Linked DNA regions of Homo sapiens. The protein of the gene in region 1 purifies or fractionates together with the protein of each later gene. This does not show direct contact. Each region holds a gene or a part of one and is shown on either strand. Other genes may lie near its edges.

Region 1 (9,165 bases):
CTTTCCCCTTCTCTAAAATAAGAGTTCAATACAGATAGCAGAGTCTAGGGTTTTCTTTGTAAACAATGAAAGGGCAGGGCCAGGAAAGAAAGTTTTTATTGTGCAGCATTGATAATGATCAGGTCATCCTAACTTATCTCCAGACCCTTCCCTGGATGTGGAGATAGATTTGCTGTAGAGGGCACTCTATGGTAATTTAGGATTTGACCTGTCTCTAGGAGAAAGGCATGGATGGTCTCAAAAAGCTTTGGTGGAGAAGCTCTGGACCAGAGGCAGGACAGCTAGCTTTGGTCCTGGCCACCAATCTTTGGGCTTTGGGCTAGTGGCTTCTGCTCTCTGGGCCTGTGTCCTTGCTGGTGAAGTGGAGGATGATAGGGCAGAAGGTCTTCCAGGGTTCCTGACAACTCCACTGTTCTTAGAGTCACAGTTTGTGATGGCATTTTCAGGTTCTTTCCTGTTTGCTAAATTGATAATAAATTCAAAGTATTGCACAATGGCATAGAAGAAGCATTCTAGGATGCAGGCTTCTGTTGGATTCACATCTACCTTTTCCTTGATTAGTGTGATTTGTGAGGTTTTACTGTAAGTATGTAAACAATTCAGAGCTAGAACGGTCCAGAGTGAGAGGCACAGACCCCAGAGTGAGTGGTTGTGGGAGATGAGGGTGGGATGATAGATTGCTGAGGAAAGGGAGTTTCTGTAATTTGTTCTCTTTCCCTGTGGATGTTTAACTTGCTGGTTTATTCATGGTTACACAGGTGAACGTTTACCTATCTAGAAGATGAGAGTTATAAAAGACCTCTGTGATTGCCATGTTCCTCCCCCTTCCCCGCCAAACTGAGGAATTTGAGGGGTTGGGAGGTTTGGCCATTTTTCCAAGGTTGCACAGCTAGCAAGATGTGGAGCTGGGGTGGGAACTCGGGGGGATAGATTGTAGATCTTGTTTCCAGATGTATCTGGGTTTTTTTGTTTTTTGGTGGTGGTGGTTGTTTTGAGACAGGGTCTCACCTGTCACCCAGGCTGGAGTGCAGTGGCACAATCATGGCTCACTGCAGCCTCGACCTCCTGGGCCCAGGCAGTCCTCCTACCTCAGCCTCCCGAGTAGCTGGGACCACAGGCACGCACTACCACACCCAGCTAATTTTTGTACTTTTTGTAGAGACAGAGTTTTGCGGTGTTGCCCAGGCTGGTCTCAAACTCCTGGACTCAAGCGATCCGCCTGCATTGGCCTTCCAGCATGCTGGGGTTATAGGCTTGAGCCACGGTGCCCGGCCTATATGTATCTGTTAAGCCCCCTCTTCCTCTGAGAGAAATGATTCTAAGATGGAATAGCGAAACATGAGGAGGAAATAGGAGCACAAGAAGAGAGAGATTGGAGAAACAGACGAGAAAGTAGGAGGCTGGGGACAGATTATGTGGGGAAGGGAAAAACACAGAAACCAAGCTTGGAGGAGAAAAGGATGGAGCTTGAAAGGGGGAGGCTCTATTGTCTCTGAAACAGCTGAGCTCTTCTGCAGCCCTTGGGGTGAAGTGAGGGGAGGTTTGGTAGCCTAGGATGGGGGGTGGGGGGGTGGACTGAGAGTTCAACCTCAGCCTGAGACTGTCTTGGAATCTCCTTGGGATTGCTCCTGTTGACCCTCAGATTGCAAAGTGTCATGGAGGCTGCTTAGTTTCAGGACCAACTGAGGCCTTTAGATCCACGGGAGCATGCAGAATGTGGACATGTGGGAAGTCAGGTGTGCGGGTGGTGATGCTGGCTGATGCTGAGGTGGGACTCAGTTCTGCTGAAGTCCCGGTTTTTTTGTAAATGCAAAACTCAGAACACTTTTCCATGGATTTCGTTTCAGTGCAAGCAGCATTTTCTCCTTGGATTTTCATCGGTGCTTTGAATGTTTTATGAGATAGTGTTTCGAATACTCCCTTTTCAGAGGAGATACTTGGAGATGAATGATTTACTGAATTGTAGCTCATTTGGGGGAGCTTCTGGCTTGTGACCTAAGCTAAGCCTCAGAATGTTTCAATGAGCAATTAAAGAGCTGTGAACAGTGGTTGACCAGAGCACTAACCATTCAAAGGCAAGGATAAAAGGTGATAATAGTTCAAGGTCTGGAGCTACAGCCAACAGCTGGCCATGAACAATGTAACTGACTTTGGCTAACTCTTCAAGCCCTAGAAAGTGTCTCTGTGGGTCCTTTGGTGGCTCCCCCTTTTTGTGTGCGGTTAGGCATGTGGACCCGTCCCTGAATCTTGCTGTCTCCCATTCTTCTTTTGCTACATCTCCCTCCACTATCCATTTCTTTTTCTTACCTCTTTCTCCTTGCCCTCCTCCCTCATTCTTTCTTTATTATCAACAATATATCTTTGTAGTTTCTTTTAATCTATTGCCATTAAAATTTCATGTTCTCTGTTCTTCATTTCAAATCAGTCGAGGGCCAGGCAAGGTAGCTCATGCCTGTTATCCGAGCACTTTGGGAGGCTGAAGCAGGTGGATCACCTGACGTCAGGAGTTCAAGACCAGCCTGGTCAACATGGTGAAACCCCGTCTCTACTAAAAATACAAAAATTTAGCCGGGTGTGGTGGCAGGCACCTGTAGTCCCAGCTACTCGGGAAGCTGAGGCAGGAGAATGGCATGAACCTGGGAGGCGGAGCTTGCAGTGAGCCAAGATCGCGCCACTGCACCCCAGCCTGGGCGACATAGCAAGACTCCGTCTCAAAAAAAAAAAAAAAAAAAAAAGACAAAAATTAGCTGGGTGTGGTGATGGGTGCCTGTAATCCCAGCTACTCAGGAGGCTGAGGCAGAAAGAATTGCTTGAGCCTGGGAGGTGGAGGTTGCAGTGAGCCGAGATTGTACCACTGCACTCCAGCCTGGGGGACAGAGTGAGACTCCATCCAAATAAATAAATAAATAAAATCAGTTGAATTCAGTCTTTTTTGAATGTGTATGTGTTTTACACACAAAACAAAAAAGAGGCAAATGAACCAAATCCAACTAAATTGCTTTTTACTTCTGTGTGGCCTTCCATTGATTTATCCCCCCACTTCTTCTGTGGTCAGCAGTGGCTTTTTATAGAAAAAAAAGTTCCCAGGTCTCTGTCATGCGGTTATTGTTTTCACAACAATAGAAAAAAGTTTCCACCCTTGTATTGTGGACCACAAGGGACACCCTCTCTCAAGGGATGTACCCTGTTTCTAGACTTCCTTCCATGGAAAAAGTGTCTTTAATGCATTCTGTAACAGAGGCCTGTACTGTAAGGGGTTAGGGGTGCTGATAGTGGAGGTGGGGCTCTTCTCAGTGACTGCGGTACTGCTTAGAATAGGGGCTGGCGGGCTATGGCCTAGAGAGTATATCTAGGAAGAATTAGCATCGTTGTTTTCTCTGTTTCCTCAGGCTGAGCTAACCTAACTGGCTGTAGCAGGACCCAGACCCTTTTGGAAAAGAATGAGATGCTTGTTAACTTTCTGATTAGTGTTGAGTGGGACCCAAGGTATGTCTTCTGCCCACCTTGGGAGGGTGGGCACCCACCGACAGTTGCTGGTGTAAAGTTCCCGGATTCTTTGATGGATGGATGCTGTACCGCTTTATGATTTTCTTCTGACTCTAATTAGTTACAGAGAGGATTGACTCTTGATGCTCAGTGGTCAGCAAGTACTTTAGTATCTAAAGTGGGCCTTGCAAACAAGAAGTCACCTTGTCACATTAGGTTTGTATTCTCTGTAATATATGTGTACTGGTTTTAGTATAAAAGTATTTAAGTTGCTTTACTGTTGAATACAATTGACGTTCTACGAAAATGTGTTTATTGTGGGCCCTCATTTGTACCAGCCCTCTGTAAATATGCATATCAGTCTCATACCCCAACTGGAGAAGCCGGGGATAGGGTAGGCATCAAACCTGCTGGTGCTGAGAACCACCCCTCCATGCTTTCCTGCTGGCTCTGCCAAACCACCAGATGCCCGGTCATTCCCTACTCCACGTCCCCAAAGGCCAGGCCCCCCTGCACCCCCCACCAGGACTGGTTCCCTCACCAGAAGGCCTTTTTCTGCGTTTCCTGGCTGATGCCTTCTCCCCTCAGACTCCCCTCACATCTTAAAGAGATGCCTTTCAGCTGGGCGCGGTAGCTGTAATCCCAGCACTTTGGGAGGCCGAGGCAGGTGGATCACCTGAGGTCAGGAGTTCGCGACCAGCCTGGCCAACATGGTGAAACCTCCTCTCTACTAAAAGTACAAAAAATTAGCCGGGCGTGGTGGCGCATGCCTGTAGTCCCAGCTACTCAGGAGGCTTAGGCAGGAGAGTCACTTGAACCCGGAAGGTAGAGGTTGCAGTGAGCCGAGATCACGCCATTGCACTCCAGCCTGGGTAACAAGAGCGAAACTCCATCTCAAAAAAAAAAAAAACAAACAAAAAAAGAGATGCCTTTCTTCTTGTGTTCAGCTTTCTACTTCTGTTGATATTGCTGGTTCCCTTGTCTGTTTCCTCCCCCATATTGTGAGTTCTGGGAATAGAGTGAGTCTGTGTTTCTTCTCTTTTTAAATTAAATTTTAATTTGTATAAAACTTTCGCGTGTGTGTGTGTGTGTGTGTGTGTGTACACAGAGAGTTTCTTTTTTGTTTGTTTTGAGACAGAGTCTCCCTCTGTTGCTTAGGCTGGAGTGCAGTGGCATGATCTCAGCTCACTGCAACCTCTACCTCCCGGGTTCAAGCGATTCTCCTGCCTCAGCCTCCCTAGTATCTGGGACTACAGGAGACCACCACCCCCCCAGCTAATTTTTTTATTATTAGTAGAGACAGGGTTTCACAGTGTTGGCCAGGCTGGTCTCGAACTCCTGACCTCAAGTGATCTGCCTGTCTTGGCCTCCCTAAGTGCTGGGATTACAGGCCTGAGCCACTGTGCACCCCCACCCCGCACAGAGTTTTGAAAGACAAATAGGCTGGGTGTGGTGGCTCACGCCTGTAATCCCAGCACTTTGGGAGGCTGAGGTGGGCGGATCACCTGAGGTCAGGAGTTTGAGACCAGCCTGGCCAACATGGCAAAATCCCATCTCTACTAAAAAAATACAAAAATTAGCCAGTCACGGTGGCGGGCGCCTGTAATCCCAGTTAATCTGGAGGCTGAGGCAGGAGAATCACTTGAACCAGGGAGGCGGAAGTTGCAGCGAGCTGAGATTGTGCCACTGCACTCCAGCCTGGGCAACAGAGCCAGACTCCCTCTCAAAAAAAAAAAAAAAAAAAAGTCAATACTACTAGAAAAATATAAAGGCTGCCTGGGCGCAGTGGCTCATTCCTGTAATCGTAGCAGTTTGGGAGGCTGAGGCCGGCGGATCACTTAAGGCCAGGAGTTCAAGATCAGCCTGGCCAACATAGTAAAACCTTATCTCTGCAAAAAATACAAAGAATTAGCCAGGCATGGCAGTTAGGATATAGACATCCTTGAGGGGCTGCTGTTACTCTGTTTACAACAGTTACTTCTAATGCACTGAGCTGTTTCTCCTGATATTACTATCATATTTATTGTTACCTGCTTACAATGCTGTTTTCTGATTGTCCATTTTAGATGTTATTTTTATTTTTCCTTATTTTTCTTTTTGTAGAGACAGGGTCTTGCTATGTTGAGACCCTGCTTGAGGCCAGGGTGGACTTTAACTCCTGGCCTGAAGCACTCCTCCTACCTGGGCCTCCTAAAGTTCTGGGATTACAGGTGTGAGTCACCATGCCCAGCTTAGAGGTTACTTTTAGATGTTATGTCTTGATGTCTTACTATGGATTAGATCCTCTCCTCTGCCCCCCAATACTTCCCTTTCTCCCTATCCTCTCATTATAGATATATCACAGTTTTTGATTACATTGATATTTGGTGCTTACATTATTTTGGCTGTGTAAATAGTGTTCATGACAGAGCCATATAGTATACTATAATATTTTCTTTCTTGTACATTTTTTGAGTTAATAATTATCTTACATTTTCTATTTACTTAGTTTCTATGTACTTATTGCTAATTCTCAAAGTATTTGACAGCATCTTAAGACATTTGTTTTATAACATGTGTTCCTATTTATTTATTTATTTATTGAGATAGGGCCTTGCTCTGTCCACCAGGCTAGAGTGCAGAGGTGCGATTGTAGCTCATTGCAGCCTTGACCTCCTGGGCTCAAGTGATCCTCCTGCCTCAGCCTCCTGAGTAGCTAGGACTACAGGCACCACCATGTCCAGCTAATTTTTAAAGTTTTTTGGTAGAGATGGGGTTTCACTACATTGCCTAGGCTGGTCTCTAACTCCTGCCCTCAAACAATCCTCCCTCCTCAACTTCTCAAAGTGCTAGGATTACAGGCATGAGCCACCGTGCCTGCGCTTGTTCCTTTTTATTTTATTACTGTTTTTTTTTTTTTACGCCCGCTTGGAGACTTCCCTCCTATAGGCCTCCATTCTGTCTCCTTTGTTCTTGCCCATTGACCTCTAGGCCTGTGGCATGACTCATCCTGGGAATTCCCTCACCTTATCCTGGGTGGGATCCTGTTTCCTTTGTTGATTTATTCTTCCACAAGTTTCTGAGAGAGGGTCTGTGGAAGTTGATCACTTTAAGCTTACAGGTCTGAAAATGTTCATATTCTACATTCATATTCGATTGGTGATTTGATTCATCTAGAATTTGAAGTCGAAAGCCATTTCCCTTAGAATTTTGAAGCCATCATTCCACTGTCATCTAGGTTCTAATATTGGTATCAAAATTCGGATACCATTCTGATTCTTGATCATTTATGGATAACCTGATTTCTCACTGAAAGTTTTTGGGATCTTCTCTCTTTTCCTGTATTTGAAATCTCCTTGCTTTAAAAATGATTGGCCTGGGTCTTTGGTGTGGGCCTTTTTTTTTTTTTTTTTTGAGATGGAGTCTCACTCTGTTGCCCAGGCTGGAGTGCAGTGGTGCAATCTCGGCTCACTGCAACCTCCGCCTCCCGGGTTCAAGCGATTCTCGTGCCTTAGCCTCCCAAGTATCTGGGATTACAGGCGCATGCCACCACGCCCAGCTAATTTTTGCATTGTTAGTAGAGATGGGGGTTTCACCACGTTGGCCAGGCTGGTCTCAAATTCCAGACCTCAGGTGATCCACCCGCCACGGGCTCCCAAAATGCTGGGATTACGGGTGTGAGCCACTGCGTCCAGCCGGTGTGTGCCTTTTTGATCTGAAGATTGACGTCTTTCAGTTTGGGGAAATTTTCTTAATTAGATATATTTTAATAATTTCATTTTCTCCATTTTCTGTGTTTTGTCTTTGGCATGCCTATTAGCTGAATGTTGGACTTCCTGGAGCAAGTTTATAATTTTAAAACATTTTATTTCCTTTTTTCATTTTATTATATTTTTGTCTTTCAGAGAGCTATCTTCAGCTTTATCTTCAACTCTTTTCCATTTTTAACTGTGCTTTCATGTGTTTACGTGGAACATATTTGCATGTTTTACTTTGTAAGAGCTCCCTAGTTCTCTGAATACTTGCTTTTCTTTTTTAGATGACATTCTATTCTTGTTTCATGGGTACAGTAAATTCCTTTATATTAAGGGTTTTGTTTGTTTGTTTTTGTTTTTTTTATGGTTTTCTGCTGTTCCCTGCTGTCCCTTGGAAGATGTTGTTTCTTCCAAGTCCCTTTTTCCATTTGTTTTGGTTACTGTATCTTCCATTGCAGCTATCCTTCCATGCATGCTGATCCTTGACTGTCTATGTATATTTTAAGAATGGACACCGAAATGCTGATTGGGCATCAGTGCCACAAGGAAGGGAGTCGTTAACTTCATTGTAGAGTGACCCAGCAGAGAGCCCCCTTTTTCTCTACTGGAGCAGCCTAGATATCAGCGCCGGTAGATCTTTTTCCTGGGGCTTTCCTGGATAGGGCTTTCTTGGAGAGGATTTTACCTGGGTGTGGGGTAGGGTGGGGTGGGGTGGTAAACAGCCTGGCCTTCCTGCATTCTGGGAGCCTCCATGGGGAAAGGGGCTAGGTATTAGTCTGTTTGATATGCAGACTTTCACTCAATCCCTGGGTCTTTTGAAAGTTGCCCCCACCTGCCATCCCTCTCTCCCATCTCTCTACCTCCCTCAGCTGTGTCCCTCCCTTGGCTGTATCTCTGGTGTAAGTTACCTGATCAGTGGATCTCCACCTTCTGCTAGCTGAGGCAGGGAAATCACCAGGCTGAGCAGACTGCAAGAGGGACCCTGGGTCTGACTGCTCTTTGTACCAACTTGCAGGCAGGCACCCTTCTTTTTAGCTTTACCCTGCTTTTCCCTTTAGAGTCCTTGGTGCCTCCACTTCCTGAACTGTCTTTGTGTTCTGTGCCATGAGTTGGGCACTTGTTTAGTGGCTCCTGCTCTGCTTGCACTTAGCAGAGCAGACAATGCGGAAACCTAAATCAGCTACTGCATGGTGGTCAGCTCTCCACTGCTGTTGACATATCTCATCTGCTGGGGTCTCTTTTTTCATTAAGAAATGCATCCGTCTACTGTCCTTTTAGTGGGAGTCCAGAAGAGAGCAGAGATAAACATGGGTGTTCAGCTCTCTGATTTGACCAAAAGTTTGTTTCATTTCTTCATTCACACACTTAAATTTGTGCCTGATATAGAGTATATTCTCAAGAAGTGTTTGTTAAATGATTGAAAGCCCGTTCCTAGGATGATATGCGTACATTTAGTCATCAGATTTCAAGACACCCAAACATACAGTGTTGCAAAAATAAATCCGTCGCTTATTCTGAGATAGACATAATAATAGGCAGCAGATCCTGCCTATTCTCCCCATGCAGTGGAGGATAAGACGCACTGGGAGGGAGACAGTGTTACAGAGTGTTGCTGTCTTCAGCCCTGTCAGTAACTACCTGAGTCACTTTGAGAAGTCCCTTAACCTATCTGGGCCTTGGTTTTCCCAGCCTTAAAATGAGATGTTGGTCAAGGTTTGATTCAGTTCTCTGCATTGAGCACCTGCTGTGTGCAAGCCACGGTGCTAGGATTCTCTACGTGTCTCTTCTAAGGCAGCCACTGTGGTGTTTTGTATGTATGTTTGTTTTGGCATGGGCCACACTGAGTTGATTGTGTTTGGTTTATATGTCTTTCTCCTGGCTTAGTTCAGTGCCTTGTACAAAGTAAGTCCTCTGCACATTTTGACTCTCCCTTTTTCTAAACCGA
Region 2 (9,165 bases), on another chromosome or scaffold:
AGACAGTTTCCCACCAGCTACTTCCTTAGAGGTCTGTCCTACCAACATACAAGAACAGCCCCACCCCGTGGCAGGCCGGCTTCTGATGCTGCTTGGTTGAATGCTTCTAGGTAATCAAGGGTTAATGCACACGCTTTTCTTTTTACCCTTGTTGTGAAAAATCTGTCTGAAGTTTCTAAATCCCTCTTCCCTACTTAGCGTGAATCTCCTAGGGAGGACTTCTATACAAATACCCAGGGGTGGGCTTCCCTTGGGGGTCTTGGAAGTGGGATCTCCACCCAAGTGATCCTGGGCCTCCCAGGGCTGAGCTTTTGGTTTCAAACTTACTTGTGCCAAGCTAAGGGCATCAGGATCGCCGTTCGTGTCATCTTTACAACAATCCTGTGGGTTTAGTGCTATTATTATCCCCACACACTTAGGGAGGGGAAGTGACTGGCCCAAAGTCCCGCAGTCAACGAGCCAGGCCTCCCAACCACTCCTCTCTGACAAGAGGCTGGCACTTCTTGCCCTGCCTACCCAGCCTGGGTTGCAAGGAATTGGGGGTTTAGGGGCTTCAGGCCTCCTGGCTGCTGTCTTCCCGGGGCTACGCTCATTCTTACTGTCCAAGTGAGGCCAGGGGACTGGTCAGAGCCCTGGGGCCTGGGGAGGTTTCTCTTCCCTGCTCACCTGGCTGGGTGCCGTTTTATGGCTATGCTCTGTCTAGGGGGATAGCAGGTGTGACCCCTCAACACGAGGTCACAGCCCACACCTGTTTGGGCAGAGCAAGGCAGGGCATCGCTGTGTGGGCGTGCAGCATCTTTTGGTTCCTCTGGGTGAAGCAGGGTTTGGGCCCCATTCTCCACATACTTCCGGGCCATCTGAGGGTAGCGCCCACCTGGGGGGTGGGGAGGACAACCAGCCAGGAGCTCACGGTTCGGTGGAAGAGACAGGCCACAGCCATGTGGTGTGGTGGAGGGGCAGGGGGCAAGGGTGGAGGTGGGAAGAGGATCAAGGGGCGTTCCCGAGGCCTCTGTGGGCTTGGGGGCCTGCCTGCTATTGGGGCAGAACAGGGGAAGTAGGCAGTGCCCAGCTGGGTGCTGAGGCTCTGTGCAGAGGACAGGCAGGAGTTGGAGGAAGAGGATGTATTTGAACTTGGATGTGGTGAGTTTGAGGTACCTGGAGATCAGCCAGGCTGGGAGTTGAGCTCAGAGAAAGGCCCAGGGAAGCTTTATTAGCACCTGTAGTCTCCAGAGTTCGGGGATGCTCAGATCTTAGGGGTGCCACCAGAGGTCTCAGGAGGCACTGGTATGAGTGTCCTGGAAAAGCCAGAAGGCAGCTGGGTGGGATGAGTTGGTGAGGGGCACTAAGGGGGTATCCTGCAGGTTTAGGGGGCTGGGCCAGGGCCCATGTGAGAGTTATGACACTGGGGGAGTGGAAGGGGCTGAGTGTCTCAGGCCAAGGCTGGAGATGGGAGGGGGGAACCTCTGCTCTGCAACCCCAGAAAGGCAGGGTGGGGTGGGAGTAACCAGGGCCAGTGCAGCTGGAACCAGCTCAGCCTGTCCTCCACCTGCAGAGCCCATCCAGGAACTGTCCAGCACTGGGTGCTCCTGAAGGAGGCTGAGTCTGCCTCTTGAGCCCACAGGCCCTGGCTTAGCTTGTTGTCCTGGCCCCCACTCCCTGCTTATCTGACCCGCACTTCCTGCAGAGCCCAGCTGTGGATTCCCCCGCCCCCCCACCCAGCCGCTCAGAGTGCCCCATCCTCTAAAGGTGGTCATTTCCTTTCCTGAAACAGGGATTCAGTCTTCCCACTCTGCCCTTGGAAGCGGAGTTCCCCAGAAACAGGTCTCAGAAAGGGACCAGCCTGGAACTTGGCTCCATACCCCCCTTTTTTTTTTTTATTTTTTTGAGACAGAGTCTTGCTCTGTCGACCAGGCTGGAGTGCAGTGGCGTGCAACCTCAGCTCCCTGCAACCTCCGCTCCCTGCAACCTCCACCACCTCTGGGGTTCAAGCAATTCTCATGCCTCAGCCTTCTGAGTAGCTGGGGTTACAGGTGTGCACCACCACGCCTGGCTAATTTTTGTATTTTTAGTAGAGATGGGGTTTCACCGTGTTGGCCAGACTGGTCTCAAACTCCTGACCTCAAGTGATCCGCCCTCCTCGGCCTCCCAAAGTGCTGGGATTACAGGTGTGAGCCACTGCACCCGGCCTCCCCTCTTGTCCATTCTGCAGCCCTGGACCCTCCCACCTGGCGTCTGACACACAGTGGGAGCTCACCACTGCGTGGTGGCCAGAGCATGGTGGGTAGTCACCTCCCTCCCCAGAACCCCATTTCTTCATCTCTGCAATGGAGAAACAACTCTTTCTTACAGGGAAGATGTGAGGGGAGAAGGGTTTTAACAGGGGCATGGCCCACTGAAATGTGGGTTCTAGAACGCTGACCTTGGCCACATTGGAGGCTGGGTTTATGTGTTGGGGCAGTGGGTACCTCTGCAGCTGCCTGCCAAGAGCAGTTGGAGGAAAAGGGAATGAATAGAGCTGTGATTTTTAAACAAATTGCTTATTTAATCTTCATGACAGCCCCTTAAGTTTAGCACTGCTGTCACCTCCATCTTAACAGATGGGGAAACTGAGGCTCCAGAGTCCAAGGGGTCATTTCACTGGGTAGCAAGGCAGCTGGGATCCAAACCCAGACAGTCTGGCTCCAGATCTCAGACTTTTAACACTGTCCCAGCATGTCAAATGACCAGAGGTGGCCATAGGGAGATGCCCAGGCAGTGGGGCTCCCTTTGCTGGGGAACAACTGTCAAAGGCAACTGTGGGAACCCCTGGGACTGAGGGTCTGCAGACGCCGGTGCCAGCAGGGCTTGTCAAGCTTGGGATGTCTGCAAAAGCCGGGGGGCTCAGCAGAAGGGCTCCCACCCTCCCGTGGCGGTGGCAAAGGCTGAGCGTGGCATGAGAGGCCTGGGGTTGTCCTGGGTGCAGGGCTGTTGCAATAGCTGCCTCCAAGCGATGCTGCTCAGGCCGAGCCTTGGACTAGAAAGTTATCTGCACGGAAGAGCAGCTAGGGAAACTAATGCTCAGAACAGCCAAGACCACTAGTACCTAATCACCCATACAGAGGCATACAAGTCCCAAGGGCTCTGAATCCACACCTGTCCCCATCGCCAGCCAGAAGGCCCCCACCCATCCACTCTGCAGCAAAGTCACAGCAAGTTCAAGGGTTAAGTTAAGACCAGAAGCCATGCCTACTTTGCCTTCTGCCGGGGTGGTGGAGTGAGCTCAGATATTCTGGGAGGGGAGAGTTGGGGAATTCCAGCCACATCTGGCAGGAGGCCCTGGTTCAGAGCCTACCTTGTGGGGATGTGGTCTCTGCGGAGGTGAGCAGTAACACGGGCTTGAAAACCAACGCCCACGTATTCAGCAGTGAAGCAGAGACTGCGCTGTGTGCTGTGTTCCTGAATCTGCAGGGGAGAGAGAGACTCATACCTAGTCAGCGGGTGGGAGTCACTCCAGGCCGGAGGGATGACCTGCCCAAAGAGCATCTGTGTCCTGCCCAGGGAGGGGTGCAGAGAGGAGGCTGCAGGGGTGGAAGGGACTGCCCCACCGAGGCCAGGAGGGTGCTTGAGGAACAGCAGGATTGAAGGAGCCTATGTTGTCCAGAGTGAGGCTGAGTGGGCCAGGCCAGTGCTGCTAAGGTCCTGAGGACCCCTAAGGGCAGTGGACATGAGAAGGCATGGCTGGGCAGGTTTTCTGAGGATGGTGGAGGTGAGCAGAGTGAGGCCTTGTCTCTTGTGTCAGGCAAGGAGGTACCCCAAGAAGAGGCTGCATGAGACCAGCCTGGGCAACATAGTGAGACCCCCATCTCTACCAAAATATCAAAAAATTACCTGGGACCGGGTGCACTGGCTCACATCTATAATCCCAGCCCTTTGGGAAGCTGAGGTGGGCGGATCACCTGAGGTCGGAAGTTCGAGACCAGCCTGGCCAAGATGGTGAAACCCTGCCTCTCCTAAAAATACAAAAATTAGCCGGGCTTGGTAGGACGCACCTATAGTCCCAGCTACTCGGGAGGCTGAGGCAGGAGAATCGCTTGAACCCAGGAGGCGGAAGTTGCAGTGAGCCAAGATCACGCCATTGCACTCCAGCCTCGGCAACAGAGCAAGACTCCGTCTCAAAAAAAAAAAAAAAAAATTACCTGGCCATGGCGTCTTGTGCCTGTAGTCCCAGCCACTTGGGAGGCTGAGGCAGGAGAATTGCTTGGGCCCAGGAGTTCAAGGCTGCAGTGAGCTATGTTCAAAGTGCAGTGCACTGCACCCCAGCCTGGGCCACAGAGTGAGACTTTGTCTAAAAAGAAAAGGCCTCAGTTTCCCCATAGCGAATGGTTCATTGGGGGGTAGGTGGCACTGCCCACCCCAGGACATAGGAGAGAACCCTTAGTTCTGACCGTCTCCCCCTTCATGCACTTGGTTCTCTGACTGCTGCTCTGAGGACGGAGCTAAGTGAGGGTGCAGGAGGAAGGGGGGGTCTCTTGGCAGTGGGGCGCAGCCTTTTGAGGTGCTGCATAGCTAGTTTGACCTGTGGGACCACTGACCATCCCTCCTCTTCCCGGTGCTCCTGGCCTCCTGTGGCTGGGATGGTGCTGGGGAGGAGGTGGGGGGTGCCAGCTGGAGGTGGGCGGGGCTCCTGCCTCTCCCCGCCCCCAGGGCCACCGCCCACTGTGCCGCGCATCGATTGGTCGCGGGCCCATTAGGCGGGGCGGCGAGTCCGACTCATAAATATTTTAAGGAATGACCCGGCCCTGGGGTGCGGAATTGCTGCGCGGGCGGGGGCTGAAGACCGGCTTTTTTTTTTTTTTTTTTTTTTTGGTCCTCCAATTGTCAGCGCTATTTTTACCGCCGGAAAGCCGCCGCCCCCTCCCCCATGCCGGCTGGACCTACTGTCTAGCCGGGCTGGTGGCTGGGGTCTCTTGTCTGGGTTGCTGGTCGTGGGGTTAGGAGAGGCCGTGGCCTGGAAAGGCGATGAGCAGGGACTCCATTAGACTTCCCCTGCCCTCCTCGCTCCATCCCCCAGCACCAAAAACCACTCTGAAGCCCCCATCCCATCAGAGATGGGGAAAAAAAAAACACATTTTTTCAGGAGGAGAAGGCAGACAGCCCAGCTGAGCCTAGAAAAACCGGAGGTGGGGGGGTGTAATGGATGGGGGGAGGGTGGTCTACCCGCCCAGTGCTCCGAGGAGGGCCAGCACCACAGGGGGCCCTGGCTGGGCTTCCTTTGTCTCCAACGCCAGTCCTCAGAGAAGCAGCCTGTGAGGGGGAGAGGCAACCCCCTACCTGTCCCTAGTCCCAATGGAATGACAGCCCAGTCTTCAATGTCCAAGGCCATCACTTCTGCATCAAAATCAGGAGCCCCTAGAAGCCACACACAGCTCCAGCAATCCCATTTTACTGATAGGGAAGTGGAGGCACCAAGAGACACAGGGCCCGGCCCAGGATAGAGTCCAGATCTCCCAGAGCCCAGTCCAGCACTGCCTGGCACCAACTCAGCTGGTCTGTTTGGACACCTTGGGACCATAGGAGGAGAGCTGACCACCAAGAGAGTTAAAGACCATAGGGTCTTGGAGATCAGAGGGGGAGAGCAGTATAGGGAAGTTTTCCTGGGAGAAGAGAAGGTTTTGTTTCGGTTTGGTTTTTTGAGACAGAGTCTCGCTCTGTTGCCCAGGCTGGAGTGCAGTCGTGCAATCTCAGCTCACTGCAGCCTCAACTTTCTGGGTTAAAGTCCTCCTGCCTCAGTCCCCCAAGTACCTGGGACTACAGGCGTGTGCCACCACACCTGCCTAATTTTTGTATTTTTAGTAGAGACGGGGTTTCACCATGTTGCCCAGGCTGCTCTCGAACTCCTGAGCTCAAGTGATCTACCTGCCTCGGCCTCCCAAAGTGCTGGGATTACAGGCTTGAGCCACCACATCCAGCCAGAAGAGAGGGTTTTGCACGGTCTAAAGGGAGGGGAGATGTTGAATAGTCGGAAGAGCAAAGTCCCTAGAGAGGGCTTGAAACACCAACCTTGGCAGCACCAAGGTTGGAGGAGCTCCCGCCCTGCCCATGCCTGCACATGGGTTATAACATTGCAGACACCACCTCCTGTGCCATCTTGCCAGTGAGTGGTCAGAAAGTGAGAAGAGTGGGCTCAGAGGTTGGGAGTGTGGTCAGTGTCACTCACTCAGGGAGCACCCACGGGGTCACGTCTTGAGCCCAGGTCAGCCAAGCTCCCTACATGGGGTCTCCTCCCCAGTTCTGGTCCCAAAGATGGGTGGGGACAGTGCACTCCTGCCCCTGCCACAGCCAGGCCCCCTTCCCTGTGTCTTGCAGCCTCCCCTCTACAGAGAACCATGTCCGGGCCTCCCTCTCTCCATCTGTAGCCAGGTGGGGGCCTCCCTGCTGGCACTGCTGTTTGGAGACTTATACCTCTAGCTGCTCAACCTGCTTCCTCTGCATCCGGGGCTGGACCTACTGAGGGCTTCTGTGCCAGGCATCAGGCCCACAGGCTCCTGGGTGGCCTGCAGGGTTAGGTAGGAGAGGTCAGGGCAGTCCCAACCTCCCAGTGCCTCCCAGGCCAGTCCCTGCCTAGGACCTGGCCACACCTGCCATGCCCTTGGAAGATTCCTCTCTAAGTTCCACTCCCACTCCAGTGAGGGCCACCTGAGACCCACCTGCGAGAGCCTCCCCCAGGGCCCTGTCCCCCATCTCTGTGCCTTCTCCCTACCAAGGGTTCCTCCAGCCAGGAGGAAGAGCTGGGGGCGACAGGGATTGATGTCTAGGACTCGGCACTGGGGCTGACTTCCTGCCTGCCGCTGCCTGCCCCATGTGGGGGCATAATCATCTCACTCAGGGACCCCACACCTACCCTTCCCAGGCTGCCAAGTCACTGGCTCTGAGCCCCCTGGGGGTCCTAATGGTATAGAGAGAGAGGTGGCCACCGTCAGGAGCACTAGCCTACTGGATAAATGGATGGGCTTGGAGCTCAGGGACAGGGTTTCATGGGTTCAGCTGTGGCCCCACCCCCACCCCAGGAAATACCACCCCTGCAGGTCATGGCCTGGGCCTGGGCTCGTGACCTTCCCTGGAGGCCATGGTGGTGGTGGTGGTGGTGGCAGGTGTGTTCCCGTCTCCACCCCTCAGGGAAGAAGCAAGTTCCAGGAGCCTGGACTTTTGCCCTGCGCACTCTCTGTGTCAGATGGGGAGACAGCCATGAGGACAGACACTTGAAGTACCCTATAACTGGCACCATGCAAGAGAGACAGGCAGGAGGAGACTGTGGGAGCTCAGAGGAGACACTTGTGCTGGCCTGGATCAGGGAGAAAGGAGGGGTGTCGGGAGGCTTCCTGGAAGAAGTGGCTTCTGGATTAATTATTGAAGTGTGAGTAGGAGTTAGGGAAGAAAGGAGGAAGCACGGGGCAGGGAAAAGGTCAGGCATGAGCAAAGCTCGTGGGTTCCTCAGTCCCCATCCTTCCCCCACCTTCGTGAACTCTAACCACCACCACCACTACCCAACTGCCAATGTCCTGATAAGTCCTGCCCCCAACTCATTGTTCAGGCCCCCAGCACCCTCTTTATTTTCTTTGCACTCATGAAGCCCAACGCAATAACCACCTCTTGAAGGAAACCTTCCAAACTCCCGACTCCCCTCCCCCAGTACCAAGGCAGGAGTCTCCTAGGAGACCGCTGGTTTGGAAACCTGTCCTTGAAGCTAAGCAGGCTCAGCCGGGAGCCCTGTTCTGTCCCTGGGGCTGTCCCTTGGTTATTGACTGCAGATTGATGGCGAGGTTGCCCCAAGGAGAGAGGGAATTCCCACGGTGCCCTATGGCCCAGAGGCCTCGCAGATGATCTCACAGAAATGGGGCAGCTATTTTTACCTGGCATTTAATTACATGGTTTGGATCCCAGAGGAGAGATGAGATGGTGATCCCAGGAGCTGCGAGGGAGGGGCATTCCGGAAACTGTGGGGACCCTGGGAGGACAGGCGAGGGCATGATCCTCTAACTCATTTCCTTGGAAGGATGGTCGCTTGTCCCCCAACACTAAGCCGGCTCCTTAGACAGGGACTCCCCAGGCACTACATCACCGCACTTTATCACTATTGGTAATTTTCCCCCTGGCTTGGATGGGGGCTGTAAGCACACAGCAGGTTGGACCTGTGTCCCCAGAGGCAATGGCAAGGCCCCCAGGTGATGGGCTGGGCCCAAGCCATGCAGTTTAGCCATCCAGAGCTGTGAAGGATGGAGGGGCCTGGGAATAAGAGGATGAAGCTGGGGTGAGGAGACAGCTGGGATTCCTGGATTGGGGATTCAAAATCGGATTTGAATGGGAATTCTGGGGGAAGCCAGATTCCAGAACGTGGGAATGTAAGTAGAAGCGTGCAGGCCATTGTGATGGAAAGAAGCAAGGTCTTCAATGTCCGTACAAAAACTTGGTCCCTTTAGCCAGGCATGGTAGCTCTTGCCTGTAGTCTGAGCTACTCGGAAGGCTGAGGCGGGAGGATCGCTTGAGCCCAGGAGTTGGAGGCTGCAGTAAACTGTGATCTCGCCACTGCACTCCACCCTGGGAGACACTGCAAGACTCTGTCTCAAAAAAAAACAAAAAACAAAAAAACGCTTGGTTCTTATCCACAGCTTTGCTTTCCAAGGCTTCAGATACCCGTGGTCAACAGAGGTCTGAAAATATTAAATAGAAAATCCCAGAAGTAAACATACAAATACAAATGTAAATTGCAGGCCAGTCTGAGTAGCAGGATGAAGTCTCAAACCATCCCGCTGTTCTGCCTGGGATGTGAATTATCCCTTTGTCTGGCATATCCGCACTCTGGATACGACCCGCTCGCCACTTAGGAGTTGTCTGGGTTATTAGATCCAAAAAAAATGTAGCGGGCCAGGTGCAAGTGGCTCGTGCCTGTAATTTCAGCACTTTGGGAGGCCAAGGCCAGAGGATTGCTTGAACCCAGGAGTTCAAGACCAGCCTCATCAATAGAGTGAGATCCCATCTCTACACACACACACACACACACACACACACACACACACGCAGTATACAGAGGTTCAGTATTAGCCAGTTTCAAGCATCTGCTGGGGTTCTTGGGACATATACCCCTTGAACGAGAGGGAACTACCATATTTGATCCACACTAGGAGGAGA

Evidence for each region.
Region 2: the proteins of SORBS1 (region 1) and SH2B2 purify together in Homo sapiens (affinity purification with western blotting; 2 studies listed by BioGRID). This does not show direct contact.

The regions. Positions count from the first base shown.
Region 1 is NC_000010.11:95,550,116-95,559,280, reverse strand, and holds part of SORBS1 (sorbin and SH3 domain-containing protein 1), read left to right. Parts: intron 1-9,165. UniProt on the Homo sapiens protein: Plays a role in tyrosine phosphorylation of CBL by linking CBL to the insulin receptor. Required for insulin-stimulated glucose transport. Involved in formation of actin stress fibers and focal adhesions.
Region 2 is NC_000007.14:102,288,378-102,297,542, forward strand, and holds part of SH2B2 (SH2B adapter protein 2), read left to right. Parts: exon of another isoform or gene 1-100; coding exon of another isoform or gene 101-110; intron 111-1,088; exon of another isoform or gene 1,089-1,140; intron 1,141-4,725; exon of another isoform or gene 4,726-4,810; intron 4,811-9,165. UniProt on the Homo sapiens protein: Adapter protein for several members of the tyrosine kinase receptor family. Involved in multiple signaling pathways. May be involved in coupling from immunoreceptor to Ras signaling. Acts as a negative regulator of cytokine signaling in collaboration with CBL.